Linked DNA regions of Homo sapiens: regions 2 and 3 are each linked to region 1. The links come from fine-mapping of genetic effects on gene expression. A gene starts in region 1. Each other region holds a variant in brackets. All regions are shown on one strand. Distances are between the middles of the regions.

Evidence for each region.
Region 2: its variant is fine-mapped to the expression of TRIM11 in whole blood (INTERVAL, PIP 0.99).
Region 3: its variant is fine-mapped to the expression of TRIM11 in whole blood (TOPMed, PIP 0.92).

Annotation. Positions count from the first base shown.
Region 1 is chr1:228,403,296-228,413,282 of GRCh38, forward strand. TRIM11 (tripartite motif containing 11) reads right to left here and starts at 3,540. Exons shown (of 6, transcript NM_145214.3): 1 at 2,859-3,540. The coding sequence starts at 3,266. TRIM17 (tripartite motif containing 17) reads right to left here. Exons shown (of 7, transcript NM_016102.4): 4 at 7,651-7,881; 5 at 6,094-6,116; 6 at 5,877-5,980; 7 at 4,640-5,456. The coding sequence ends at 4,906. LOC124904537 (a long non-coding RNA gene) reads left to right here and starts at 5,976. Exons shown (of 2, transcript XR_007066918.1): 1 at 5,976-6,439; 2 at 7,390-9,962. RefSeq lists silencers at 3,252-3,491, 3,552-3,641, 3,782-3,851 and enhancers at 4,202-4,251, 4,443-5,102.
Region 2 is chr1:228,441,148-228,451,134 of GRCh38, forward strand. It overlaps LOC124904538 (a long non-coding RNA gene), which reads right to left and starts at 3,885. Exons shown (of 2, transcript XR_007066919.1): 1 at 610-3,885. It also overlaps the pseudogene RPL23AP15. The variant ACCCG/A (reference allele first, on the strand shown) is at 5,230.
Region 3 is chr1:228,681,163-228,691,149 of GRCh38, forward strand. It overlaps a transcript of RHOU not described here and the pseudogene FTH1P2. Among named protein-coding and RNA genes, the nearest start is that of RHOU, 49 kb to the right of the region's middle. RefSeq lists an enhancer at 755-1,255. The variant T/G (reference allele first, on the strand shown) is at 5,618.

The DNA of each region.
Region 1 (9,987 bases):
TCTGGAAGGATGGAGGTGCTGGGAGGGTCCAGAAGTCTGCCCCGGTAGCAGAGCCAGGACTTCAGCCCAGCTGCCTGGCTCCAGGTGCTCACTTTAGTTCACCACTTGGCCTCACGATTCGGGAAGACCGCTGGAGCACCAAGGACATGTCCAACTGCTTTACTGTCTCTGCCTAGGCTCAGCTCTCACGTGAGCTACAAGAACCCCAAATGGCGGTCCCTGTCCCCAGGCCTCTCTCCTCACTGCTGCCGACCTGTTCCAGAAAACTCAGGCCTGGCCCCTGTGACCCCAACCCCACCTCAAACACTTGGCCCAGTGCCTCTCACTTCTCCCTCAATGCCTCAGTCCCTACGGGACATTTTCAGTTTTCTTTTTTTGAGACGGAGTCTCGCTTTGTCCCCCAAGCTGGAGTGCAGTGGCACGATCTCGGCTCACTGCAACCTCTGCCTCCTGTGTTCAAGTGATTCTTCTGCCTCAGCCCCCTGAGTAGCTGGGATTACAGGTGCCCATCACCACACCCAGCTAATTTTTGTATTTTTTGTACAGATGGGATTTCACCATGTTGGCCAGGGTGGTCTCAAACTCCTGACCTCAGGTGATCCGCCCACCTCGGCCTCCCAAATTGCTGGGATTACAGGCGTGAGCCACCACACCTGGCCAACGTTTTCAGTTTTCAACACTAAGGTTACAAACAGCATTTGATCAGATGGAATGGGCTGTAAAGCAGCACAACATACCCAGCATGGCAAAGATCTTGCATTTCAGGTACCTGCATCTTTGTGTCTCTGGCCAGATCAGAACAGAAACCTCTTACCCTGCGTGTAGTCAGAACTGGGATGCTGGGGCTTGGTGCAGGCCTGGGATCTTCCCTGGCCTCCTCCTTCCTGTGGCAAACCCCCTCCCCACACAAGTGCCATCTGACACACAACCCAGAGAGATCTGGGGGCCATCTTCTCTCTCCCATGGTGCTGCTTCCTGGAACTGGAGCTTACTGGGACTTCCCTGTTTACCACCTCGGGGCAACCCAGCCTGGGGCTTGTTCAGCTGTCATGACCCCAGGTCAGGGCCAGGCAAGGAGTGAACCTGTCATGGAGCTAATGGGCCCCAGCTCTGGCAAGTGGACACACAGCCCCATAGGTGGGACTGAGCTTTCTAGGCCCATGGGGGCAGGTAAAAGCAGTTTGCTGTGGTTAACATAACCTAGGCTCTAAGGCAGTGAAGAACAGGATGTCATCCCCAAATATACCGCTGTGGTACAAGAATTATTCTGAGTAAAAGCAGATGCAGGAAGAGCTCTCTGTACTCCTATCTGCCTAAAAGTAGGGTATTCATTCCCCATGAGAAAGGCACCCTCTCTCTACCAGGAAGAGGAGGGCACTCTAATCCTGGGAGATGATTCTGCCTAAACAGACCTTACTACAATGACCATTATCTTGTGTTAATTCTTCCCATCTATTTCCTAGTCACTTTCCCACAATTTATCAGTCCTAGACGCCCAATCCCATTTCTGTGTCCAGTCACTTCTCCACAATTCACAAACCTTTGCTGAAATACGCTTTTCTATGAAGTTCTTGTGCATGTGAAACTTAAAATATTAATCAAATTGTATGATTTTTTTTCCTGTTAATTTGTCTTGTGCCAGTTTAATTTGCAGCCCTGAGCCACTGAACCTAACAGGGTAGAGGGAAATTTTTTTCTTCACCTGCAAAAGAAAGGGTTAAGTGCTATCCCATGAAACTATATCGAGTCAACTCTATAGAGCTATTGGGCACTCTCTGCACCCATTGGGGTAATTGGTGTCACAAGGGTAATTCTGCTGGGCTAACATGTTTCAGGTGTAGACATTCCTGCATGGGCAAAGAAAAGAAAACCCAAATGAATCTGTGTCTGAACAAGCCCACGGATATGGCTCTAAACCACCTTTCTGCTAAAATCCAAAGCAGAAGGGGACAGATTCAGATTTATTCTAGTATCCCAGAAGTTTGCTCTGTGATAGGGACAGATCAAGCTCAGTACTGATTCTAACACTGCCTTAACTGCTCATCTGGCACACACAAGTGACCATGATGCAACACACAAAGTGCAATCAAGAAAGCTCCAAAGATGCTGCCATCTGCCCCACACGTAGGCTCCCAGGAGCACACCTGCAGCAGGTCAGCGAGGAAAGAGGACAGCGGGAGGGAGCGCAGGCCAGGGAACGTGTGCCCCAGGCCCTTCAGCTCGGGTTTTATTTGGGTTTTAAGCAGCAAGACAAGGGGAGAAAAGGCAGGCTGAGCCCTGGCATCTCAGATGGCAGAGATGGCTCCCAGTACCCCACCCAGAAATGCAGGGCAGCCCTGGAGGGGAGGTTAGAGAGGAAACGACTGTGTCCCCCTCATCCTGCCCAGTCTGGGGCTTTCCCAGGACTTAAGTACTGACCTGCTAACACAGTCCCTGCAGGGAGTCCATCTAGGATCGGCCACCTCTGAGGTTCTCCCACTTTCCTCTGATTCCAGCTCCTTGCTGGCCAGGGTATGGCCACATTTTCCTTGCCCCCACTCCACCACCTTCCACCTTCCACCTTCCTCTCTTAGCCTCTATCTATGAGAGGTACGCCCCTCACCCCCGAGAGCAGGGTCTCATTGGCGGCCATGGTCCCAGCCTCAAGGGGCCTGGTTGAAACAGGCTGTGTCATGAGCCCCCACAGCCACCCTGCGCGACACCCCCCTCACAGGCCCACAGCAGGCTGCATCCTGAGCTCCCCGCCCTAGACAGAGACAGATTACTCCCGGAGCAGTCCCCCAAACCTCCCACCCGCCCAGGCCTCCCCAGTCCCCGGCTCCCCGACGCCCCTGCACGCCACCCCCGCCCAGGAGCACCTTGAGGTCTTCGGCCGCGTCCTGCAGCGGCCGCACGCGGTGCGCCCAGTGCTCCCCAGAGCGCTCGCAGGCCGCACACAGGAGGCGCAGCTCGTCGCCACAGAAGGCGGCCAGTGGCTCGCGGTGCGCGGGGCACACGCCCTGCGGGACCGGCGACGGCGGGTGCAGGCGCCGCGCCATCTCGGCCATCTTAGCAAGCGGGCGGTTGGGCCGCAGGTTCCTCTGCGGGGACAGCTCGCGGCACTCGGGGCACGCGTACGGGCCCTCGGGCTGGCCCCAGCAGCGCCGGATGCACTCGCGGCAGAAGTTGTGGCCGCAGTCGGTCATCACCGGATCCGTGAAGTAGTCGAGGCAGATGGCGCAGGTGGCCTCCTCCTGGAGGTTGGTGGACAGGTCGGGGGCGGCCATGGCGCGGACAGAGGGGAGGAAGGCGGTACTGTCCGCGGGGCGGCGGCGGGCGGCCTCGGCAGCTCGCGGGGACGCGGGGTATCCGGGTGCGGCGGCGCAGGCTCGGGCACTCCGGGGCGCGAGGCTCGGGACTCCCGGGTGCTCGGGCTCCGGGGCGCGGGGACTCCAGGGCGCAGGACTCTGGGTTTCGGTAGCGCTGGGCGCGTAGGCTCCGAGCGCTCGGGGGACGCGGGACGTAGGGATCCCGGATGCCGGCAGGAAGAGGAGCCGAGGCGGAAGCAGGAAGCGACTGGGTGGGTTTTGTGTGTTTTTTTTTTTTTTTTTTTTTTTTTTTTTTTTTTTTTGGAACAACCCGCTTTTGCCTCCGATTGGCCGCTGCCAGTCACGCGGCCCGCGGGCGGGACGGAATTGGAGAGCTTTCACTTGCTGACCTGGCGTCACCACCGCTCCGGTTCTTGTGGCCAGGTCTTTTACCCCTGCCCTGGGGAGGACTCAGGCGCAGGGGAGGGATGGGGACAGGGGGCGGGGCGCAGGGGAGGGATGGGGACAGGGGGCGGGGCGCAGGGGAGGGATGGAGCAGGGGGCAGGGCAAGGAGGGATGGGGACTCAGGGCGGGGCACACGGAAGCAACTGCAAGGACTAAGGGAGTCCGCAGCCTGGGGCATTGGAGCCCTTCGCCATACCCCTAGTGCGTCCTCACCCCCTCAGCCCGTGCTTCCCAGGGCGGGTATCCTCGGAAGGCCCGGCCCTCACAGCCTTGGCAGGCCAAGGTCAGAATGATTGGAGTTGGGGGATGGGACGGGGGCATCCCTCCAGGACCAGCTCTCCAGGAGGCCCACATTCTTTCTGCGGGAACCACTCCAAAGGGGCATGCTGTTCCAGGCAGCCCCTCGCGCAGACACTCCGGCTTTGTCGAGGTAGGAGTACGCTTACTCTGGAATTCTGCCTTGCTAGTGACTGACACAGGCTGTTAAAGTGCTTGACCCTGCAGGGGTGGGTGGGGGGTTCCTTGGAAAAGGTAAGGGCGCTGTGGAAAAGAGGCCCCTACATAAATCCTAATCTCTTTGGGATTTTGCCCCTGCTCGTGCAACTTTGGGGATCGAACGGGATGGGGGTGGGCAGCTCTGAGGCTTTTTACGGGTTCAGCCTTTCCCATTTTCCCCCATCGAAGGACCCAATAGGATGCATAGGACATTTCTATGGGCAGCCTGGGACCATCCCTGACACAGCAACCACCCCCGCTCCTCCCCACCATAGGATATTTCTACTTCTTTGACAGAGTAACCTAAACCCCTGGGGGGGCTGGGAGCCACAGATTCCTGTCATTCCAAAGTGGGGGTGGGGGCATGGCTAAAAAAAACGTGACCACGCTGTTCCTGGTGTGTAGGTATGGATTTAGAAATCGGTCCACTCAGAACGCAGGGGCTTTCAAAAGTTTCCTCTAGGAAGCATCTGTCAGTATACCCTCTTAATGTTTGACAGTTCTAATCACAATTATATTTAGAATTTGAGAAACCCCCCTGTGTGTCTAATGGCTGCCAGCGTGATGCCAGAGAACCCTGGCAGGTGGCCTGCAGTAAGCAGAAGGCCCACACCTTCTGCAGAGCCAGGAGCAGTGCCCGAGTCCCCCGGTCTGTGTCTATCCTTTCACCCACATGGTCACTGTGGAGATGACCATCTGACCAGACTTCGGAGCCCCCAGGCAGAAGAAAGGCTGCAGGGGGCCTGGGAAGGTGGCCTGGGAGTAGGTGTGCAGGTGGGACCCATCGCTTACACTGTAGAAGGACACTTCCCCGGCTTCGAAGTCCAGGAAGATGCCCATGTGGCTGGGAGGCTCCATCAGCATGACCGGGGTTAGGGCAGAGAAGGTGGATAAGTACTTGGTCCCCTTGGACAGCTGCACCACCCAGAAGCCGTTTTCGGGGCACTTGGGGACCCTGTCTTTCCGGCTCACGTTGTCCCTGCACACACCCAGGGCCCACAACGCGTCCCCGGTGATGTTCATGCCCACCTCCCAGTAGTGCCTCCCAGAGGAGAAGGCCGTCTGGCCCACAGCACAGGGGTAAGCCACAAATCGGTCCTTGCTGCAGAACCCACTGCCCTCCGGCGAAGAGCCGAGGTAGCGCCTCTGGCGGCTCTCATACAGGAGGAGGTAGGGGTACGCGGAGGTGGCATCAGGCACCACATCCTCTGTAGATGGGCGTGGTGGTGGAGAGATGGGGAGAGGTGTGGGGCATTCAGGGTCAAAGGTGGGAGTCCCCGGGCCCTAGTGGTGGATGTGGCCAATGGTCCCCTAACTCCGCAGAGGCCTCCCCTGCTGTGAATCTGGGGTTACTTGATGCTTCCACACACCAATTGTGTGTGGGCCTTGGTGGCAATAAGGTACAGGGGGCTGGGCAGAGAGACCACTGGGAACTCAACAAGATTCATCCCATGAATTAGAACCACCAGTAACGCCGCCCTACGAAGGCACAGTGAATAGCCAGTGACCGTCACCAGGCAGTGCACTTGTAGAACCCCCCCCATTGGTGGCTTCCGAGGCTAGGGGGTACAGTGGGGCATCGCCAAGAGATCCTGGGTCAGAGGTCCTGGCCCTGGGTGCCCACTTACCTAGAAAGCCTCTTAGCACTTCAATCTGTCCGGGAACTCTGCACACAGTCCTGGGTCTGGTTGGGGGGGCAACCTCTGGGCACTGCACACTCACGTTGTTCTTCCTCCGGTGGGCACACACAGGGGAGTCTTATTGACTCCCCTGGCCCGACAGTCTTATTGTCCCCCCCGCCCACCGCTGCCACTGCCCCCGCCCCTGCCTGAGGGGACCACATACCTGCTCAGGGGTTCCTTCATGTCCTGCAAAAGACAGGGACGGAGGGTGGGGAGTGAGCCAAGCTCCTGGCTCACCTCAATGTCCCTGCTCCCTTCTTGTCCGTGTCTTAGGGCAAGACCCATCCTGTCCCCTGGGCATTCCCTTCCCACAATTGAGCTTCATGGCACTCCTGAGCCTTCCCCACTGCCCTAGCTCCCACTACCACCAGAGCCCCCAGTGCCTCACCTAAGCTGAGCTACCCTGTCAGCCCACGGCCACACGCCTGAGGTCCTGCAACTCAGGAGAGGCGGAGGGACCCCTTCCAGGCAAGTGGCCACTCAACACTGACCCTCCTCTCCCATTTCAGGTGGGTGCAGCCCACTCAGCAGGAATGGGGTGGGGGCGCAATTGGGTGCAGTTTGGGGAGGGAGGGGGGTGGGTAAGAGACTGAGGCACCTGGGGATTTTCTGTAGCCTCTTTAGGGATTCAGAGTTCCCTAAAGAGATCACTGTTTACTTCTCTGGCCTGGAAGCTACAAGGGACTTGTTTTCCAAAGGCCATATTTCTAGTTGCCAGAGCGTGACCCTAACTCTAGGCAGGGACTCTCATGCAGGTGGCGCGCTTGGCCCTCTGCTCATAGGAGCACCCTTCTACCAGCTGCAGGGGCTTTTCCCTCAGTTGGTCAGCAAACCAATGTAGTGGGTTGTGAACAGGCTGCTTTGTTTTTCCTTTTCCTTTTTTTTTTTTTTCCTAGATGTGATCTCACCATCACCCAGGGTGGAGTGCAGTGGCGCAATAGCTCACTACAGCCTTGAACTCACGGGCTCAAGCAGTCTTCCTGCCTCAGCCTCCTGAGTCCTGGGACCACAGGCGCACGCCACCATGCCCTGCTAATATTTTTAAGTTTTTGTAGAGATGGCGTCTTATCAGCCGTAATCAAGCCCCCTCTCCAGGGCCATGGCACACAGGCTGGTCCCGGCAGACAGGCTGGCTGCTTCACCTCCCCACTGCCGTTGCCACACAACTCACTCCTGGGACAGTGCACCTCCTCCACACCGAGACATGGAGTCCCTGTCCCAAAGCCACACCTGGCTGCCAGGTGTCCCAAGCCACCTCTCTGGACTTGGAAGGAAATGGGGACACTGTCTCAGGTTGGAACCTGTAAGGGGCTGACTTGTGTCCCCACTAATTCACAGGTTGAAGCCTGAACCCTCAGGACCTCAGAATGTGACTGTGTTTGGAGATAGCATCTTTAAGGAGGGAGTTGAGGTCACTGGGGTGGGCCCTAATCCAGTCTGACTGGTGTCTTTATACAAGGAGATGATTAGGACAGAGACGTGCATAGAGAGATGATGCCATGAGGACGCGGGGAGGAGACGGCATCTTCAGGCCTAGGAGAGAGGCTCAGGAGGAACCAGGCCTGCCCGCACCTTGGCCTCAGCCACCCAGCCTCCAGGACTAGCAGACTGGGAGCTAACAGCCCTTTCCCGTTGGCTGCCTCTTCCCCAAGCCCAGCGCCCCCTGCCCATGCCTGTCAGAGCTCACATCCCACCCTGCCTGCCAAGCCTACTGGCTCACCTGCAGCATCTGGAGGGGCCCCTGTGTGCTCCGCTCCTCCAGCTGCAGCAGCAGCAGCTCCAGAGAGTGACCCTGCCGGTCCAGGCAGGCCACGCTCTCCCGGAGCCTGCTGGCAGTCTCCTCTTCTTCCGTCTCCAGAGCCTGGAGGAGCCTCTGCTCTTCTTCCACCAGGTAGAGGTTCATCTTCTCAAACTCCAGCACAATGCGTTCTCTCCGCTCCTTCACCTTGCCCTGCAGGAGTGGAGAAGCCCAGCATGTTGCCAGCAGGTGGCTCAGCTCCAGGGATGCTGGCACCTCTCCCCAGGGCCCTGGTGACCCACAAGATCACCAGCAACTGGAGCTTTAGTTGGGGACCAGGAACTGTGACAGAGGCCCCCACCTCTGCCATCCTGTGATACACTGAGTGTAACCCTCCGAGCCCCGAACTGCAACTTCTACACATCCAAACACCCATGCACCCTTGCTCTGAGGAGGTTCAGAATGTCCACCCCCAGATAAGCCTCTTGGGCATGTTAAACAAAATTTATGGGTGGCCATTGTTTTTTGTTTTGTTTTGTTTGAGACAGGGTCTCGCTCAGTTGCCCAGGCTGGAATGCAGTGGCACTTATTGCAACCTTGACCTCCTGGGCTCAAGTCATCTGAGTAGCTGGGACCACAGGCATGCACCACCACATCCAGCTAGTTTTTAAATTTTGTGTAGGGACAGGGTCTTGCTCTGTTGCCCAGGCTGGAGTGCAATGGCACAACCACAACTCACTGCAACTTTGACCTCCTGGCCTCAAGTGACCCTCCCACCTCAGCCTTCCAAGGAAGTGGGACGACAGACATGTGTCACCACCACCATGCCCAGCTAATTTTTAATTTTTTTGTAGAGACAGGGTCTTGCTATGTTGCCCAGGCTGGGGTTCAGTGGCATGATCATGGTTCACTGCTGTCTCAGACTCCTGGGCTCAGGTGATCCTCAGGGGCCACTGTTTTGAACTGGGCTCCTGCGCTGGGTCCTAGAAGACCAGACCCAACCAGAATGGAGTCACTGGTGCTAATGAAACCAAGGGGTTCACTGATCAGGTCAGCCTGCCCTGATTGCTTTTTGTTATTTTGTTTTTCCTTTTTCCATGAAGCTGAAGGCTGTGCCTCTGAATGCTGACGCCCACCCTTCACTGGCTCTTTATAGATAATATTCACAGGTCACCATGGGACTGGTCGCTTCAGGAATGTGGGGCAGCTCCTGTCCAGCTGAAACCAGTTGAGACCATCTGCCCTTCAAGTGGACCTGTCCCAGTGCCCGAGGTGGCCTTTTGATGTGAGAGGGCCAAAACTTCCAACCTCAGATCATGCTAAGGCTGCCGTTTCTGGTACCTGTGTCCTGTGAAATGCCATGCACCCCGACGACACCTGCACAGAATGGGCCTGCTGGACCACCCTGCCTCCGTAGTTCATAAAGACTCCCAAGCTGTATCACTTGGGAGGCAGGTTTAAGAGCTGTTCTCCCTCCTCTTCACTCAGTGGCCTTGCAAATAAATCTTTTCTCTTAGCTGGGTGCAGTGGCTAACGCCTGTAATCCCAGTGCTTTGGGAGGCTGAGGCGGGAAGATAGTTTGAGCTCAGGAGTTCAAGGCCAGCCTGGGCAATAGCAAGACCTTGTCTCTACAAAAAAAAAAAAAAAAAAAAAAAAAAAAGCTGGTCTTGGTGGCAAGTGCCTGTAGTCCCAGCTACTCAGGAGGTTGAAGCAGGAGGATCACTTGAGTCCAGGAATTTGAGGCTGCAGTGAGCTATGATTGCATCACTGTGCTCCAGCCTGGGCCACAGAGCGACTCTGACTCAAGAAAAAAACAAAAAATAACAACAAAGATCTCTAAATCTGTTTTAATTTTGTGTTTTGACAGGCATTAGGATTAAGGTTAACTAAAGGCCATTGAGAACCCGCAGAAGCAGGAAAACCTGTTTGCCTCCCCCATTAGCTGCCTAAAAAAATAAAGTGCCTGGCCTGGCGCGATGACTTATGCCTGTAATCCCAGCACTTTGGGAGGCCGAGGCAGGCAGATCACCTGAGGTCAGGAGTTCAAGACCAGCCTGACCAACATGGTGAAACCCCATCTCTACTAAAAGTACAAAAGTTAGTCGGGCATGGTGGTGGGCACCTATAGTCCCAGCTGCTTGGGAGGCTGAGGCAGAAGAATTGCTTGAACCCGGGAGGCAGAGGTTGCAGTGAACTGACACCGCACCATTGGATTCCAGCCTGGGCAACAAGAGTGAAACTCCATCTCAAAAAAAAAAAAAAAAAAAATTAAAAAGTGCCCTTTCATGAAGGAATTTCCAGTGGTCAAGGCATCTATAC
Region 2 (9,987 bases), 38 kb after region 1:
GATGTCCATGTGTCTCCTACAATCTAGCAGTGGCTCCTCGAGGAACCCAGAGCCATTCCTTTGAAACCAGGAGGGAGAAGGCCTTAGTCTCTGCCAGAAGGTAGAATCCTGACTTTGGGCCTGGCTGACTAGCAGACACAGATGGTCTCATCTGATTGGCACGGAGCCCCCGCTCACCCCATCTCCTTCCCTTTAAGACACCCCGCCACCCCTACACAAATTACAATGGAGGCGACTCTGTACTGACTGCAGCTGGCACTGAATGGAAATCTGTTTTCACTGCTTTAATGTCCAGCTTTATCTTTGCGTTAACTGAAAAAATCACAGGATCTATAAATTGGAAAAGCAGATTTCACTTCTTGTAGAGGGTTACAGCCTGCAAAGTGGCCATCCCTCGGGCAGGGAAGCACAGCCTTGGCCAAACCCAGTGCCTGGGCCAAGCCCAGGCACTTTGGGGGAGGGAGGAGTTGGGGCAGGAGCTCTGTGCTTGTTTGGCTTTGCCAAACACACATATTCCACAGCCTACGGGAGGACTATGGAGATCCATGAGGGTAGCCTTCACACATGTTCACGGAACACACATGCACATGACATGTGATGCATGCTTACCTTGAGGTGGAGGCTTCACATGTAAATGTATTCCAATTAGGTCTTTCCAGGACTCAAAGGTGCTCAAGTGCACAGCGTCTGTAAACTGGCCAGGACTAGCCCAAGGTCGTGGTCTCTCATCAGCAGAAAGCTCTTGAAGTCAGTGTCTTGTCCAGTGAATGCTGCCATCATGGCTGGTGGAGCAGGGGGTCGGAGAGTCAGCCTCTGTGAGCTGGGTAAGCTGCAATTGTCTTAATGTTGCTTAGCTGGAGGCCAGTGCTTGGTTAGCTGCTGGAGTAAAAGAAAACCCTTGCAGCAGTGAAAACATGGTTTATTCTTTAAGTGTAGGGTGCTGACTTAACCCTTAGGTCTTGTTTATAATTTGTCACCTTATTGCCACAAAGACTCCATCCTGTGTCTGTGTTTTTTTAAAAAATTCTCTTAACCTCACCTGGACTGTCTCTATGTTAACATGAATGCTGTCAGTTGTGTCTAAACCTCAACAGAAAGGGGTATAATGAGATGTGTCTGACTCCCACCCTATCATGGCCAGAAACTCAGTTTTTAAGGTTCTATGGGGTCCCTTTTACCAACAGAGTGTCTGTGCAGTTGGTTAGGGGTGCTTAGGATTTTATTTTTAGTTTACAGTCTCTAAATCAGGAGACACAGACCGGCTGGCCTATTTGTAGATATGCCAATTAGCATCCAGTGAAGGCTGGCCCCGGGTTTATGTGAAATGAGGAGGGTGAAACCCCAACCTGCAAGACCCTGGGCCCAAATTGCAGTAGCAACAATGCCAAAGTTGCAGCATTTTTCACAAAACAACTCTCACCTATTATTTTCCTTGAATTTCTTGTCATAGCAAGTGCGGAAGATTCACCAGAACCATCAGGCAGAACCACACATTTGTTTTCAGAAATGTCTTTCCTTTCTTTCCACAATGTTGCTTTGGCTTAAATGTTTGTGTCAGAGACGTGTGAACCAGAGCAACTCCATCTTGAATAGGGGCTGGGTAAAATAAGGCTGAGACCTGCTGGGCTGCATTCCCAGGAGATTAAGGAGGTTAAGGCATTCTAAGTCACAGGATGAGACAGGAGGTTAGCACAAGATACAGGTCATAAAGACGCTGCTCATAAAACAGGTTGCAGTAAACAAGCTGCCCCAAACCCACCAAAACCAAGATGGCGATGAGAGTGACCTCTGGTCATCCTCACCACTACACTCCCACCAGTGCTATGACAGTTTACAAATGCCATGGCAACATCCAGAAGTTACCCTATATGGTCTAAAAAGAGGAGAAACCCTCAGCTCTGGGAATTGCCCACACCTTTCCTGGGAGACTCATGAATAATCCCCACCTTATTTAGCATATAATCAAGAAATAAACATAAAAATGGGCAACCAGCGCACCATGCCACTGCTCTGCCTATGGATTAGTCATTTTTTATTCCTTTACTTTCTTAATAAACTTGCTTTCACTTTATGGATTTGCCTCAAATTCTTTCTTGCACCAGATCCAAGAACCCTTTTTTGGGGTTTGGACTGGGACCCCTTTCGGGTAACATTTGTGTCCCCAGCCCAAACTCATCTGTGGAAGCCCCAACCCTCAATGTGAGGATGGCATAGGAGGTGGGGCCTTGGGGAGATAATTAGGTCATCAAGGTGGAGCCCTCACTGATGGGATTAGGGCCACTGTAAAATGGACTCCAGAGAGCTGCCTCACCCCTTCCATCACATGAGGTTGCAACCACAAGACTGCACTCTACAGCCCAGAAGAGGACCCTCACCAGACCCCAGCCCTGCTGACACCTTCATCTTGAACTTTCAGCCTCCAGACTGTGATCAAAAATTCTATTGTCTACAAATTGCTCAGTCTCTGGTGTTTTGTCATAGCAGCTTGAAGTGACTGAGACAAATGTCCTCACTTGAGGATGAGGCATCAGCATTATCATGGAAGGACTACCAATGATCATGGTGACTTTTTTTCTTCTTTATTTCTTTAAACTGACAAAAATTGTATATATGGTGTACAAGGTACTGTTTTGAAATATGTATTGTGTTGGGAATATGGATTGGGGAATGGCTAAATCAAGCTAATTAACATAGACATTACCTCACATATTTATTTGTGGTGAGAACACCTAAAATCTACTCTCTTAGCAATTTTCATGTACTACATTGCTGTGAATTATAGTCATTGTGTTGTACATTAGATGTCTTGAACTGACTCCTCCTGTGTCAGCGTGCCCTAGCCCCCTCCTGTGCCCTTTAGTCAGCGTCTCTGGCCCCCAGATCCTGGTGACCATCATTCCACTCTCTGCTTTATGATATCAACCTCTTTAGATTCCGCATAGAAGTGAGATTATGCAGTGTTTGTCTTTCCATATCTGGCTAATTTCACTTAACGTAATGTTCTCATTTCACCCCTGTTGTCACAAATGAGGGAATTTCATTATGTTTTAAGGCCGGAATAGTATTTCATTGTACATATGTACCATATTTTCTTTACTCATTCATCCGACAATGGATACTTAGGTTAACTCCATGTCTTGGTTATTGTAAATGGTGCTGCAGTGAACATGGTGCAGATCTCTCTTCTGGATACGGATTTCATTTCCTTTAGATATATCCCCAGCAGTGGGGTTGCTATATCGTTTGGGAATTCTATTTTGAATTTAATAATGTTTTCCATAATAACTGTACTATCACGGTGATTTTGAAGATCAATATATCTCCACAGGGTAGACAGCTACACCATCATTAAAAAAAGAGAACAGTGGCCGGGCGTGGTGGCTCATGCCTGTAATCCCAGCACTTTGGGAGGCCAAGGCGGGCAGATCACAAGGTCAGGGATTCGAGACCAGCCCGGCCAACATGGTGAAACCCCATCTCTACTAAAGATACAAAAAATTAGCCAGGCATGGTGACGCAGCGCCTGTACTCCCAGCTACTTGGGAGGCTGAGGCAGGAGAATCGCTTGAACCCAGGAGGCAGAGGTTGCAGTGAGCCGAGATCGCACCATTGCACTCCAGCCTGGGGGACAGGGTGAGACTCCATCTAAAAAAAAAAGAGAACAGTGAAAATGAGAGACAAAAGTAGCTGATTCCCAGCTTCAATTTTGTCTATAATACTAATTTTCATGAAGAGCAACATAAACTCCTTGGAGTGCAGTTAAGTCCATATCTGGAGTCAAAAAAACAAAAATTCAAAACAAAACAAAACACCCATGATAGGTCTGAAATAACTTTTTGCTGTCAGAAAGCAAAGATGAGCCGGGTGCCAGTGGCTCACACCTGTAATCCCAGCACTTTGGGAGGCCGAGGTTAGAGTTCAAGGCCATCCTGGGCAATATAGGGAGAACCTGCCTACAAAACAAAACAAAACAAAAACAAAAACAAACAAACAAAAAAAACCAAAAACACGCACACACACACAAAACAAAAAACCAATTAGGCGCTGTGGTACTCACCTGTAGTACCAGCTACTTGGGAGGCTGAGGCGGGAGGATTGCTTGAGCCAGGAGTTTTGAAGCCACAGTGAGCCTGATTAGGCGGCAGAGCTAGACCCCGTCTCAGCAAAACAAAAACAAAACAAAAACAAAAGCAAAGGTGCTTCCAACAATCAGGGTGATCCTAAAATGACAGAGCAGCGTTTTGAAAATACCTCCCCGGGGCTGCAATGTGACCATTTGAGCACTAAAAACAACCATACAAATGGTTAATTAGAACATGCCCCATTTATAAAAGGAGGAAAGTTAACATACACGTTTCTAATAAGACAACAAAAGGATGGAAATAACATTGTGTTGAATTTTTGTTGATTTTGTTAAAAAGGAGCGCGTTGACACATAGGGGGATTTTGTTTCTTTAAGTTCATGTCTGTTTATATAAAGTTTAGGTCTGGGTGTGTGTGTGTACCTGTGTAAGCAGGAAAGAGTAAACAAAATCGAGAGCCCGGGACAAATGCACTTAAGAAGGGGCGACGGGAGGGCCAGGCTCGCCGGGCTGAGTGCTGAGGAGGGGGCGCGTCCCACCCATGCAAGCCCGGAACAAAGGCGCCTGTCACTCGTCACTCTCCACGCGGGCTGGCTCTGGAAAGCCCAAAGGAAAAAACCCTCACTTTCAGGAAGAATAAGCCTCAGCCCATGTATCTAGGGAACACGTGATGCTGCAAGAAACCAGTGACTTAACGCGTGTAAAAGCAGGAGAGCGTCAGAGGTTCTGACCCCGGGGGAGGAGCAGACCCGCGGCAGCGTGCGGAGACTTAGCGGGCGGAATCTGCCACCAACGCAACCTGGCCCAGAGGTTTTGAACTGACCAACTGGGAGACGTCCCCGAGCTTGAATAAGGGCCTCAAAAGCTTAGCGTTTTATGCAGAGTCGCAACCACCCAGCGCTGGGAACCTGAGCCTGCACAACCCACTAGAAAGCACCCGTGACCGTCCCCTGCGCCCGTTATCCCTGCGCCCCGCACCCCTGTATCCCCGGCTTCTCTGCAGCTGTACACCCTGCACTGCGGCGCCCCCCAGTCCCGCTGTCCGCTCCATCGCGCAGGTCTCCAAAACGAATCCCGGCTTGGAGGGGCTCAGCGGCCCTGGGCCTGTGCGCCGTTGCGGCCGGGAGGGTCATTTTCATGCCTAAGG[ACCCG/A]CCCCTTGCACGCAACCTCGGGTAGCCAGCCGGAAACGGCGTCCCGGGCTCCAAAGGACATCTCTTTTTACATTTCAGCAAAACAGCCGCACACCTTCTCCCCAGATGGCCTCTGTGCAGCCTGAAAATGCCCGCTCCCTCCAAGTCCCTGGGCAATTGCTGGGACGCATCTCAGAGACTGCGCGGGGCGGAGAAGGGGTATGTGTTTGGGCCACTAATTTGATTTTCTTGGAAACTTTCTTCCAGTCCAAACCGGAGTCAGCTCCTCTCACCCTTGTAGAAAAGCATCCCGTGGGGGCGGGGCGGGGTGGGTTGGGGCCCAGCGTTGGGGGGTTGGGGGGGCGGTCAACACACCACCCTCCCGCCCTTTGTTAAGCTATTGAAGTTCAATTTCATTCCTTCTCCGTCTTCCATTGACCAGAGAGGAAAGGAATCCTTTGAATTTTTTTTTTAAGTTCATCAAATATCCATTTAGCATCTACTATGTGCCAGGCATAGCTGTTAGTACTTGGGGTGAACGCATCAGATGAAAACATGCCTCCCTGGAGCTTGCAATTTAGTGGAGGAGGAGGTGAGAGTAAACGTGAGGTGATGGCACGGTGTTGGAGGGGTGTTCACTATAGGCAGAGGGCGCCAGGAGGCCGGTGGTCGCGTAGGACAGGGAAGGCTGCAGTTGGAGAGCAAACCTGGAGGAGCAGCCGCGGTAAGGCCCAGAGTGCGAAGACGCCGCGTCTAAGGGCAGCAGAGGGGACCTGGAACTGGAGGGTTGGAAGAAGGGTGGTCACAGGCAAGCAGAAGGGGGCCTCAGAAAGACTGGACCTTGTTTTGAGTTTTTGGAGGAACCTCCGTCCTATTTTCCGTGATGGCTGCACCAGTTTACATTCCCCTCAACAGCGTGCGAAGGGTCCCTTTTCTCCACATCGTGACCAACACTTGTTGTCTCTTGTCTTTTTGATATTAGCCATTCTAACAGGTGTTCGGAGACATTTCATTCTGATTCTGATTTGCATTTTCCTGAATTTTATTTATTTATTTATTTTTTGCGACAGGGTCTCCCTCTGTGGCCCAGGCTGGAGTGCAGTGGTGCAATCTCGGCTCACTGCAACCTAGACTTCCCGGGCTCGAGGGATACTCCCGCCTCAGCCTCTGGACTAGATGGGACCTCAGGAACGACCACGCCCCGCTGATTTTTAAAAATTTTTTGTACAGACGGAGTCTTCCTATGTTGCCCAGGCTGGTCTCCAAAGCCTGGGCTCTAGCAATCCTCCCACCTTAGGCTCTGGGATTAGAGGCATGAGCCACCCTACCGACCCTCCTAGATTAGTAATGTTGAACACCTATTCATATGCCTGTTGGCCATATGTATGCCTTCTTGGGAGAAATGCCTATTTAGGTCCTTTGTCTATTTTTAAAGTTAGGTTATTTGGTTCTTGTTTTGGTTTTGTTTTTTGCTAATAAGTTGTAGGAGCTCTTATATATTTTGGGTATTAACCCCTTACCAGATGTTTGGTTTGCAAATGTTTTCACCCATCCATAGGTTGCCTTTTAATTTTGTTGATCCAGCCATCTCACTTCTGAGTATGCCCAATGGAAATAAAATCACTGTCATAAAGAGATACTTGCACTCCCATGTTAATTACAGCACTATTCATAATAGCTGAGATACAGAAACAACCTAAATGTCCATCAGTGAATGAATAAAGAAAACGTGGTATAGATATTAGTGTTACATGCTATACTACACTATAATAATGAAAATTATTCAGGTCTAAAAAAGAAGGAAACCATGTCAACAACATGGATGAACCCAGAGGACATTATGCTAAGTGAAATAAGCCAGGCACAGAAAGACAAATAATACTGCATGAGCCAACTTATATATGGAATCTAAAAAAGTCAGGGGCTGGGTGAGGAGGAGTACAAAGCTTCAGCTATAAGATAAGTAGTTCTGGAGACCTGAAGCACAGCATGGAGACTCTGGTTAATAACATATCATGGACATAAAATTTACTGAGTAGATCTTACATGTTGTCACCGCACACACAGACACATGCACACACACACAGGTAACCACATGAGGTGATGTGTGTGTTAATTGATTTGACTGTGGTAATCATTTCACCACGTGACATGTACCAAGACATCATGCTGTGCACCTTGAATATGTACGAGCTTTATTTGTAGATCATACTGTCAGAGGCATTTGAGTTAGAGCAACTCCATCTTGAATAGGGGCTGGGTAAAATAAGGCTGAGACCTGCTGGACTGCATTCCCAGGAGGTTAGGCATTCTAAGTTACAGGATGAGATAGGAGGTCGGCACAAGATATAGGTCACAAAGACCTTGCTAATGAAACAGCACGCGGTAAAGAAGGCAGCCAAATCCCACCAAAACCAAGATGGCGACTAATGTGACCTCTGGTCGTCCTCACTGCTCATTATAATACATTAATTATCATTAATTATAAGTAAAAGATACTCCCAACAGCATCATGACAATTTACAAATGCCATGGAAACATCAGGAAGTTACCCTATATGGTCTATAAAGGGAAGGAACCCTCAGGTCCAAGAATTGCTCACCCCTTTCCTGGGAAACGCATGAATAATTCACCCCTTGTTTAGCATATAATCAAGAAATGACCATAAAAGTGGCCAACCAGTAGCCCTCAGAGCTGCTCTGCCTATGGAGTAGCCATTCTTTTATCCCTTCACTTTCTTCCTTTTTTTTTTAATGGTGAAAATATATGCATATATTTAGAATTAGCCAGCTGGACTCAGTTTAGATGATCCCAATTTTGTTGGTAACATCCAAAGCACTGTAATCAGGAGCCAGTTGAACATATGCTCTCCATCAGGCTGATCAGGGTGTTGACCTTGGCCACATTAATGTCACAGAGCTTCTTCACAGCCTGTTTGATCTGGTGCTTCTTGGCTTTAACATCCACAGTGATCACAAGTGTGTTGCTGTCTTCTATCTTCTTCATGGCAGACTCAGTGGTTAGTGGAAACTTGATGATAGCACAGTGGTCAAGCTTGTTGGGGACAATTTGCCCAGGATATTTGGGCTGCCTCCGGAGTCACAGTGTCTTGGGCCACCAGAAGGTGGGTGACATGCGGATCTTCTTTTTTTGTGTGTGGCTATGGACACCTTTCAACACTGCCTTCTTGGCCTTCAAAGCCTTTGCTTTGGCTTCGGCTTTAGGAAGGGCAGGAGTTTCCTTCTTCGCTTTCAGTGCCATCTTGTGAAAAGCTCCTTTACTTTCTTAATAAACTTGCTTTCACTTTATGGATTTGCCCTGAATTCTTTCTTGTATGAGATCCAAGAACCCTCTCTTGGGGTCTGGATCGAGACCCCTTTCCGGTAACAGTACCTCAATAAAGCTGGGAAAAAATAAAAAGGGACCAGTAAAGCATTCTCAACAACAAAGAGCGTGGGGCTTTTCTTTGTAGGGCCCTGTGAGGCCTCTGGGGGTTTTCCAAGAAGCAAGGGCTTTGAGACTGTGTGGGTAAAGCTCCTGGGGCTGGAAATGTGATAGTTTTATAACTGTGATGATAGGGCCAGGCACAATGGCTCATGCCTGTAATTGGGAGGCCAAGGCGGGAGGAATGCATGAGCACAGGTGTTGGAGACCAGCCTGGGCAATATGGTGAAACCACTGTCTCTACAAAATACAAAAAACTACCCAGGTTTGGGGAGCCTGCCTGTAGTCCCAGCTACTCAGGAGGCTGAGGTGGGAGGATTGCTTGAGGTTGAGACAGCAGTGAGCTGTGATTGTTGCCACTGCACTGCACTCCAGTCTCGGCAACAAATTGAGACGCTGTCTCGAAAAAAAAAATGTGATGATGGCAAGTCTATCATGCACAAGCATGCTGCCCCGCACACCTTCAGGGACGGTCCCACTGGTTGTAGTGATCCACTGTGCAGGTGTCCTTGAGAATGCAGCCAGGCGGGGTTTCTCCTGCCTTCCCAGAGCTCGGCTTGTGGCGGGAGTGACGTGACAGTCACCCACTCAGTGCCACGAAGGGAGGTAAAGTGGTGATTGGATGGAAAGCAGTGTGTCTGGGCTCCCTTGCCTTGGGGTCACCTCCAACAGCTGCTGTGCCCGGAGGACTCGTGAAAAGTCACCTTGAAGCTACAGGTCGTGGCATGGAAGGGCTCACAGACAATTTTAGAGTAAGAGTGTCACACCTACACTAGGTGAGTCAACTTACCCCTCTCCACCCCTCCATCCTGGGTGCACGTGTCCATAGGTGTTGTCTCTCTCTGCTGTCAGACTTTTCCCAGGATAAAGTCCTACTTACGAAGACCAGGCCTCAGGTGCGAGAGCAAGAGTGCCGGGCAATGGCACGCAGGTGTGGCCACTGAGACACAGGATGTCCTGGCCACGCTGCAGAGAAAGGTGGGCTGGAATGGTGATCCCAACGGGAGTGCCTCAAATGAGCCAGGCCTGTTTAGCGTATCCTGAATATTCAGTGCCTATTGTATACTTAGCGTTGTCCTGAATATTTAGTGCCTCTTGCATATCTAGTCATCCTAGATACCTAAGCCTCATGTTTATTTATCTTAATATTTAGTGCCTCTTGTATACTTAGGGATCATTAACATCTAACACGTACTGCATCTTGTATCTATAGTGGTCATAAGTATTCAGTACCTCTCATAAATTTAGCAATCCTGAATATTTAGTGCTTCTTGTATAGTCAGTGATCATGAATATTTAGTGCGTCTTGTACACCTAGTCACCATGAATAT
Region 3 (9,987 bases), 280 kb after region 1:
TTGGTAGAGAAAAAGGCACATGTACTCTGACTATGCCTTCAGCTCCAGCCACCTCTCTAAGAGGAAATTGTTGGGCAGGAGGGGGAGAGCTAGTCGCAGAATGAAACTGTAAACCAGACCGGGTGTGGGAAGGGGAGTTAATAGAAGGGTTATAGGGTGAGGGAGCAGAGGCTGAAGAAGAGTTGGAGCCTGATTCAGCCTGGCGGGGAGCGAGCTGAGGAGGAGCAGTCTGGGGAGGAGGTGAGGGGTCAGATGGGTCAGCAGAAAAGGAAGATTCACAAGACTCAGTGACGACTGGGGTTGAGACTGAAGGGACAGGCGGGAGGGAAAGAAGGAGGATTTGGGATGAGTCGCATTGGGAACAGAGACTAAGGAGGGAACAAAGTGTGAAAAATGCCTGGACGTAAGGCACCTCAGACCATTTGCCCTTTTTTCGACAAAAAGTATCTAGGTCTCGTGGGATGGAGAAATCGAAAGTGTCATTTTCTGGCCATTTAGAACCATTGTCGAGTTTGTATTGGGGCCAAGCGGTGTTGGAGAAGAAAATAAGATGCTTAGATTTTAGGTCAGGCAAGAGGTGAAGAGGTTTTAAGCTCTTGAGAACACAGGCTAAGGGAGAAGAAGGAGAAATGGAGGGTGGAAGGTTGCCCATAGTAAAGGAGGCAAGTTTAAAGAGAAGGGTAGAGACACGGAGAAGCGGGGTGGGGAGCAGTCCTGGGCTGCAATGTGGGTGAGCAGCCAAAGCAGGTGTCCCCACAATTGACTTGCCACCAAGGGAATGTGGGTGAATGACCAAGGCAGGCATCCCCGTGGTGATCAGACACCAATGGGGTGTGGGTGAATAATCAAGCAGGCACACCCTGCAATGATTAAACACCAAGGGTAGGCTGTCTTCCTAAGTTGGTGACTGGCGCCAGAGTTTTGGGTCCATGGATAAAATGTGTCTCGTTTGTCTCTATTAGAGAGGAAAAATAACTGGACTTGGAAGGACAGGGAGATTGAAGGGTAGGGAGAGAGGCTGGAGAAGAGAGTGAAAAGACTGTTTACCCGATTTGAAATTGGTGAGATATTCCTTGGGCTGGTTGGTCTGAGGACCTGACGTCATAGGTGGATCTCTTCACGGAGTGAGGGTGAGGACAGGGGACTGGTCTCCCGAAGGAGTCCCTCTGACCCGGGTCTTCAGCACCAAATGTCTCATGCTTCTGTGTGAAGAGACCACCAAACAGGCTTTGTGTGAGCAACAAGGCTGTTTATTTCACCTGGGTGTAGGTGGGCTGAGTCCAAAAAGAGAGTCAGCAAAGGGTGGTGGGATTATCATTAGTTCTTGCAGGTTTTGGGATAGGCGGTGGAGTTAGGAGCAATGTTTTCCAGGCAGGGGGTGGATCTCACAAAGTACATCTCAAGGGTGGGGAGAATTACAAAGAATCTTCTCAAGGGTGGGGGAGATTGCAAAGAAACTTCTTAAGGGTGGTGGAGATTACAAAGTACGTTGATCAGTTAGGGTGGGGCAGAAACAAATCATAATGTTGAGTAAAGAGGAAAAGGCAGATCAATAGAAACACAAATAAAAACCTCACAACATAGAAACAGAAAACCGGACCCACCACCATCCATCGTCATTGCCACTTATATAAATATCAGTAAATTTACTTGTAATTCTAAAGGGAGTATGGGAAGGGAGTTGGATGTCACTCAAATCTGACACTGAAATCTCAGATAAGACACAGAGAGGTTGAGTCAGAGCAATGGAGATGTGGGGGTGAGTGGAGTGAAGTAGCCCCATGGTGCTTTGACTTTTCTCAAAGGCAAAAGGCAGCCCCATGAGCCCCATACTGTATATCTTCTGGTTAAGCTCATTAGGAGAGGATGTTAACTGTTTCTCAACCACTAATTTCAGTAAGTGAATCAATCCTTGTTGAGTTGAATGCCCAGAAGAAATTGCCACCCTTGGGATCTGGGCTGGAGTCAACTACACCTGACAGATCTTGTACCAGTTAAGATTTTAACTCGGTTCTGAGTCACTGAAAACCCCATAGGCAGCCACTGACCTAATCATGGTTTGAAGGAGGCATTATCTGATAGCCACAGAGGCAACCGGTCCACCTGTCTTCCACCCTATTGTCTTCTGGTCACAGGACAGGCATTTCACCCCTAGCATCCTGTTTGCATTCTGGAAAGGGAGAAGGAGAAATATGAAGTTTATTTGGTGGTACTATTGTGGGAATAGCCAAATACATCGATGGAGCTTACTTAGGAGATAGGATCAGGTAGATATTGAGATTTTACATATGATATATGTGGGATAAATTATCCAATCAGTGATGTTGGAACAACAAATTTTCCATTTGGGAAATATACTAAAATGATAGAGGAAAATGTTTTTGAGTTCTTGATTTAATGAATGTCTACTTAAAGAAAAAACCCCCACAAAATCCATAAAGGAAAAAATAGACAAATTTGCTGACAGCATAATTTAAAAAATTTCTATAACAAGGACACTCTTTAACAAATTGTAATTGATGATGGCAAAATCCAAATTTTTCCAAAATATTTTTAAAGAGGTTTATTCTGAGCCAATATGAGTGATGGCAGCCAGAGTTGCACGGTTTCAGGAGGTCCTAAGAAACTGTGCGGTGGGGGTGGGCAAGATGGATTTCCCCACGTTGACATTTTGAAAAGATCCCCGTGTCTGGCTGCCTGTGCAGCATGGGAGGGAGAGGGGTCAGGGTAGGTGTGCCTCCATGAGAACCAGATCCTTAGAAGACAATTGGAATGATGGGTCAGAAACTATGGACATGGAGAAAACTGAGGATCTGTGGACTTGGAGATCATAGAATCCCAGCGTATGCCTGTGGTTGAAGACTGGTTTTTGTTTGTTTCTTTCTTTCTTTTTGAGACGGAGTCTTGCTCTGTCGCCCAGGCTGGAGTGCAGTGGCATGATCTCGGCTCACTGCAACCTCCAGCTCCCAGGTTCAAGCAATTCTCCTGCCTCAGCCTCCTGATAGCTGGGATTACAGGTGTGTGCCACCATGATGGTCTAATTTTTGTATTTTTAGTAGCGATAGGGTTTCACCCTGATGGCCAGGCTGGTCTTGAACTGCTGACCTCAGGTGATCCTCCCGCCTCAGCCTCCCACTGTGCTGAGATTACCCATGTGAGCCACTGCGCCTGGCCAGTTTGTTTTTTGAGACTAGGTCTCATGTGTCATCCAGGCTGGAGTGCAGTGGCAAGATCTGGCACATTGCAACCTCCACCTCCTGGGCTAAAGTGATCCTTCCACCGCAGCCCCCTGAGTAGCTGGGACTACAGGCGTGCACCACCATGCCCGGCTAATTTTTGTATTTTTTGTAGAAATGGTGTTTTGCCATGTTGGCCAGGCTAGTTTTGAACTCCTGGGCTCAAGTGATCCACGTGTCTCGGCCTAAGTATTGGGATTACAGGCGTGATCTACTGTGCCCTGCTGACATAACTGTTAATATTAGTCCTTTTCACTCTCAGAATCGTTCCTGTTTGGGTGCTAGATTTTGCAGCCACCCCCATAAGGCAGGAAAAAACATGCAGGCTCTGGTAATAGAGTAGTTGTGAGGGTGAGGGAGAAGGAACCACAAGGATGACTTCCAGTTTCTGGCTTGCAGACCAAAAGGGAACGTGGTGCTGTTCCAGGAAACGGTCCCGATAATAGCTCAGACCCTAAGAGAGTGTTCTTGATCTTGTGTAAGAAAGAATTCAGGACGAGTTTGTAAAGTGAAAGCAAGTTTACTAGGAAAGTGGAGGAATAAAAGAACGGCTACTCCATAGACAGAGCAGACCAGCTACTCCGAGAGCTGCTGGTTGCCTATTTCTATGGTTATTTTTTGATGATATTCTAAACAACGGGTGCATTATTTATGTCTCCCATTTTTAGGCTATATAGGGTAACTTCCTGACATTGCCATGACATTTGTAAACTGCCATGGTGCTGGTAGGAGCGTAGCAGTGAGGATGACCAGAGGTCACTCTCATTGCCATCTTGGTATTGGTGGGTTTTGGCTGGCTTCTTTACTGCAGTCTGTTCTGTCAGCAAGGTCTTTATGACCTGTATCTTGTGCTGACTTCTTATCTCATCCTGTGACTTAGAATGCCTTAAGTGTCTGGGAATGCAGCCCAGTAGGCCTCAGCCTTATTTTACCCAGCCTCTATTAAGATGGAGTTGCTCTGGTTCCAATGCCTCTGACAGTAGGAATTTGGGAATGAGTTTTAACAAATACTTGGAAACTGAAACTCAGAGTGAGAGACTAGAAAGAGAGCAAATGCTGTAAAGAGAAATGACCACAAAGGGAAATTAGGAGAAACAAAACTGGAACCAAATGGAGCACCATTCTCTGGATGGTTGATTCTGTGAAAAATTAAAATGGAAATCTATTGAGCATTTGGAGCCAGAGAATGATAGGATACTGCTCTGAGAATTTACTGGGGAATTTGAGAGTTTTAGAAGATAACTAAAGTATTCAGAGACTCATGAAATGACTGTATGTGAATATATATCTTCCTGTTAAAATTATATATAGGTTAAATGTATTTCTGTTAATCAAAATTAATCTTCTCATTGACTTACATTCTAATTGAAAAACCTCTTTGTTCTCCTTTAGTGAAACCCTTAATCAGTAGCATTTGACACTCAGAACTTTTTTGTCTACCGACTCCTTTCTCTTCAAGAGTTAATCTAGTGCAACCCTTAATTATCCCCAGAGCTATTATTAAAAGAATCTGTAAATGGAAGCATTTTTAAAGCCAAGAATCTTAGTAATTTTATTCTGATCAGAGTTTATAAGATCAGAGTTTTACACTTTGACATCTTATTATATGAAGATGAAATAAAACCATTAAGAGGAAACACAATGTAAGTTAGTGATCAGACTTTTGTATTAGTCCATTGACCCCAAAATCTGACTTGCTTATAGGGTTGTGTTATATTTGAGTTTTAGTTATAATTTTGCTACTTATTAGATTTAGAGGAATTAGTTAAATCTCCCTTATCTTCAACTTCTTCATGAATAAAATAAAAATAACTAACTCATGAGGTTTCTATGATATTTAAATGAAACAATAGCTATATAGTGATTAGTACTTTGTAGTTACTCAATGTGTTTTATTAACTAATATTATTATAATAAAGAGTTTCTGTTTGAGGAGATGAAATATTTTGGAAATAGTGGTGATAGTTGTACAACATTATGAATATAATTAATGCCATTGAATTGTATGCTTAAAATTTCTAAAATGGCAATAAAACAATAAAAATATATAAAATACAATAATTACATATTTGCAGTTTAAAACCTATTATGTTTGACAATATATTTCTGAATTTCAGTTTCAGAAATCTAGAGGAATACTCTCCTACACCATGAGACAACTGATATTTAGTGCAAGCCATGGTGAGCACTTGCCCTCTTTTAGTATTGGGTCGGTGCAAAACTCATTGCGGTTTTTGCTATGAAAAGCAATGGCTTTTTAAAGGTCTGGTCTGGCAACAGAGTCAGCTCTTAAAATGTTAAATTCCTAACTTTTAAAGCCTTGATAATCCCAACCAAAAAGCAAGGGAGAATTTTTTTTTGAGAGGGAGTCTTCCTCTGTC[T/G]CTCAGGCTGGAGTGCAGTGGCGTGATCTTGGCTCACTGCAACCTCCGCTTCCAGGGTTCAAGTGATTCTCCTGCCTCAGCCTCCCAATAGCTGGGATTACAGGTGTGTACCACCACATCTAGCTGATTTTTGTATTTTTAGTAGAGAGGGGATTTCACCATGTTGGCCAGGCTGGTCTCGAACTCCTGACCTTAGGTGATTCACCCTTCTCAGCCTCCCAAAGTGCTAGGATTACATGCGTGAGCCACCGTGCCTGGCCGGCAAGGGAGAATTTAAGGAATTATAAAAAATTATAGTGAGCTGACTAGTAGGGGATAGAGTACACAAAACTCATTTTCCACTATTTGAGTGAACAATTGTTTACTCCTCTGAAAGCACCTGTGGGCTTCACTGGCCCGCTCCACTGACCGGCACTGCCTCCACCCAGACTTGCGGGAGTGCTCACCCACCTCAGCGTGACTGTCCCTCCCCTCTGTACTCTTCTCTCTATTCCCCAGTTCCCAAGAGTTATCCCTTTCTTTTTTTTTTGGTTACCAAATTTCTTTATTTGAAGGAATGGTACAAATCAACGAACTTAAGTGGATGTTTTGGTACAACTTATAGAAAAGGTAAAGGAAACCCCAACATGCATGCACTGCCTTGAAGAACTTTGCCAAATACTTTCTTCACCAATCTCATGAGGAGAGGGAACATGCTGAGAAACTGATGAAGCTGCAGAACCAACGAGGTGGCCGAATCTTCCTTCAGGATATCAAGAAACCAGACTGTGATGACTGGGAGAGCGGGCTGAATGCGATGGAGTGTGCATTACATTTGGAAAAAAGTGTGAATCAGTCACTACTGGAACTGCACAAACTGGCCACTGACAAAAATGACCCCCATTTGTGTGACTTCATTGAGACACATTACCTGAATAAGCAGGTGAAAGCCATCAAAGAATTGGGTGAGCACGTGACCAACTTGTGCAAGATGGGAGCGCCCGAATCTGGCTCGGCGGAATACCTCTTAGACAAGCACACCCTGGGGGACAGTGATAATGAAAGCTAAGCCTCAGGCTAATTTCCACATAGCCGTGGGAGTGACTTCCCTGGTCACCAAGAGTTATCCCTTTCTAACATATTGTTCTCCCCCTCTCCCTCCTCTGCTCCATCTCCCTCCCTCTGTCCCTTCCTTCCTTCTGTCCTTCCTCCCTCCCTCCCTCCCTCCCTTCCTTCCTTTCTTCCTTCCTTTCATTTGAGTATTGTTTCCACCCCACCCTCACCCCACAAAATGTGAGCTGTACAAGAGCAAGGATTTTGTTTGTTTGTTTGTTTGTTGTTCACGGATGGGTCCCAGGTGTCTAGGACAGTGCCTGGTTAACAGTACATGCTCCATGAAGATGAGCTATTGTGACTTGGGGTTTTCTGGAACTGTAGCTGGAACCAACCCTAACCTGTTACAGCTCTCCACTCATGCCTCCCACTGCCTTTTGAAGAAGGCCATGTTGTTAATGTTGTTAAGCTGCTGTCTAAAGGACATGAACATGAATTTTTTCTCTGTAGCTGACACAGGTTTCCCCCGAATCCTTCCACTGCCTCTTTCATGTGTGAAGAACAGCAGACATTTGTGAGTTGGCAGCCTATGGACTGAGAAATGTGGACTGCAGCCATAGAATGGAGCAGATTTCCAGGGCATTTGGGTTGCAAATCTCCCATTTTGACCTCCTTAGCATCGTGCTCTATTATTTAACCCCTCCTTCCATTCCTCCCATGTCTGCCTGCTGTCACTTAAACAAGGGAGTCCACCCAGTGTGGGGAATCGTGCCTTTCCTGCAAACCTTCCTGCTGATTTGTGTTCTAGCCCAGGCTCATGAATTAGTTCTGCTGAGCCTGGCCATGGCCAGTTGTAAAGTGCTGTGTGTGCTGATACCAAAAGTTATGTACAAAACACCAAGAAGTCCCAGGATTGGTACTGCCTTTCAGTATTTGTCCAAAATGGTGCTTTTCTCTGCTTCCCTGGTCAAGCAGAATGAACAGGTCACCAGCGCAGGTAGAATTCTCTCAGTGTCACTGTGGTCCTTGCAGGTCAGCTGGATTTGTCAGTTTAGCTGAGTGTGTCCAAAGACCTCAGCCTCCCTTCTGATTTTCAAACAGAGAAACAAATATAAAGCTACATATGGGTGTGTGAGATGAGACTGGCAGCAGTAAAGGTGGCACTTTGAAGAGGCTCTAGGGAGACAGAATGGACAGTAATTTTAAAGTGACTTTGGGAAGAGGCACCACTGACCTCTCCTCCTTCTCCGCCTGAACAGTCCCTTCAGAAGCTGCTTTTCCCTCACTTCCGTCTCCCTCATCCCTGAATAACCCACACATTTGGAGCTTCTCTTCCCACTATCTTCTAGCTTTTGTAGGTTTTTTCCATCTTATTCCAACATGAGAGGCAAAGGACCCTGAGTTTGTCAGACCCAACCCTCGAAGAAGCCGAAGAGTCAAACAAAAGAGGTCATATGTAATCTGTAGTAGAAGCCAGACAATGTGAAAGGGTAAATCCAAAGGCCATTGGAACTTCTGGATCCAGATAGGGCCCAGCAAATGTGTAATAAAGTCAGCAGTGAGAAACGCGATTGGGACATGATACTTCCATGACATCAGTAGCTGTAATCAAGCTGAATCTGCCTGTTGATCCCTATGGAAACTGTCTGCTGACTGTAGTGCTGCTCTATTTTGTTGTCATTTCAGGGCTACAAATGAATATGCAATCACTTGACTACTTTGTTTTAAGCCAGGGGTCCCCAACTCCTGGGCTGCAGACAGGTGCTGGTCTGTGGTCTGTTAGCAACCAGGCTGCATAGCCGGAGGTGAGCAGTGGGTGAGCATTACCACCTGAGCTCCGCCTCCTGTCAGATCAGCAGTGATATTAGTCTCACAGGAGCTCAAACCCTATTGTGAACTGTGCATGTGAGGGATCTAGGGTGCTGGCTCTTAATGATAATCTAACTAATGCCTGATGATCTGAGATGGAACAGTTTCATACCGAAACCATCCCTACCACCCCTAGTTCGTGGAAAAATTGTCTTCCACGAAACTGGTCCCTGGCAACAAAAATGTTGGGAACCACTGTTATAAGCCATCTGTGAACCATGAAATGTTTGGGTCAGTCTCCTGAGACTGAAAATTTAATCAAAATTTCAGCAAGAACTTTCTCTTCCCACACTTTCCAGTGTGCCTGAAACCGGAATTTAAAAAAAATGTAATTGGAGCACGCAGAATCAATTCTTAACGCTGTTTCAATGTGTCCTTTCCCCCAAACAATACACTTAAGACATTTACTAAGTGTTAAAGAGCTACCTCTCTGTACTACTTGCTGTAATTTTCTTTGATCAGACTGATTTTTATTTAAAAGATTTGTTTTGTTTGTTTGTTTGTTTTTGTTTTTTAGAGCAGGAGTGAAAGTTTATTAAAAAGCTTTAGAGAAGTAAGGAAAGGAAGAAAAGGAAGGAAGGTACACTTGAAAGAGGGCCAAGTGGGCAACTTGAGAGACCAAATGCTGAAGATTAGTTTGTTTGTTTTTTTTTTTTCTCTTTGAGATGGAGTTTTGCTCTTGTTTCCCAGGCTGGAGTGCAATGGCATGATCTCGGCTCACCGCAACCTCCGCCTCCCAGGTTCAAGCAATTCTCCTGCCTCAGCCTCCTGAGTAGCTGGGATTACAGGCATGCACCACCACGCCTGGCTAATTTTGTATTTTTAGTAGAGACGGGGTTTCTCCATATTGAGGCTGGTCTCGAACTCCTGACCTCAGCTGATCCGCCCGCCTTGGCCTCCCAAAGTGCTGGGATTACAGGCGTGAGCCACCAGGCCCGGCTGTTTGGTTTTTTTTGAGATGGAGTTTTGCTCTTTTGCCCAGGCTGGAGTGCAGTGGCGTGATCTCGGCTCACTGAAACCTTTGCCTTCTGATTTCAAGCGATTCTTCTGCCTCAGTCTCCCGAGCAGCTGAGATTACAGGCGCCCACCACATAGCCTGGCTAATTTTTTTACTTTTAGTAGAGACGCGGTTTCACCATGTTGGGCAGGCTGGTCTCGAACTCTTGACCTCATGATCTGACCTCCTCGGCCTCCCAAAGTGCTGAGATTACAGGCGTGAGCCTCCGTGCATGGTGGAAGATTAGTTTTAAAAGAGTGTATCACATAGTGCTTAAGTACTGTGTTTTGTGCTTTTATGTTGTCATTAATAGTGCCTTCAAATTAGGGAGGAAACGACTTAACTCAGTTACTTGTAAAAGTTTGGTTGTGAAAGAAGCTAAATTAACTGCGAGGATTCAGCTTATAATTTTTTTTTTTTTAAATAGACTTTATTTTTCAAAACCTCTTTAGGTTCCCAGAAAATTGAACAG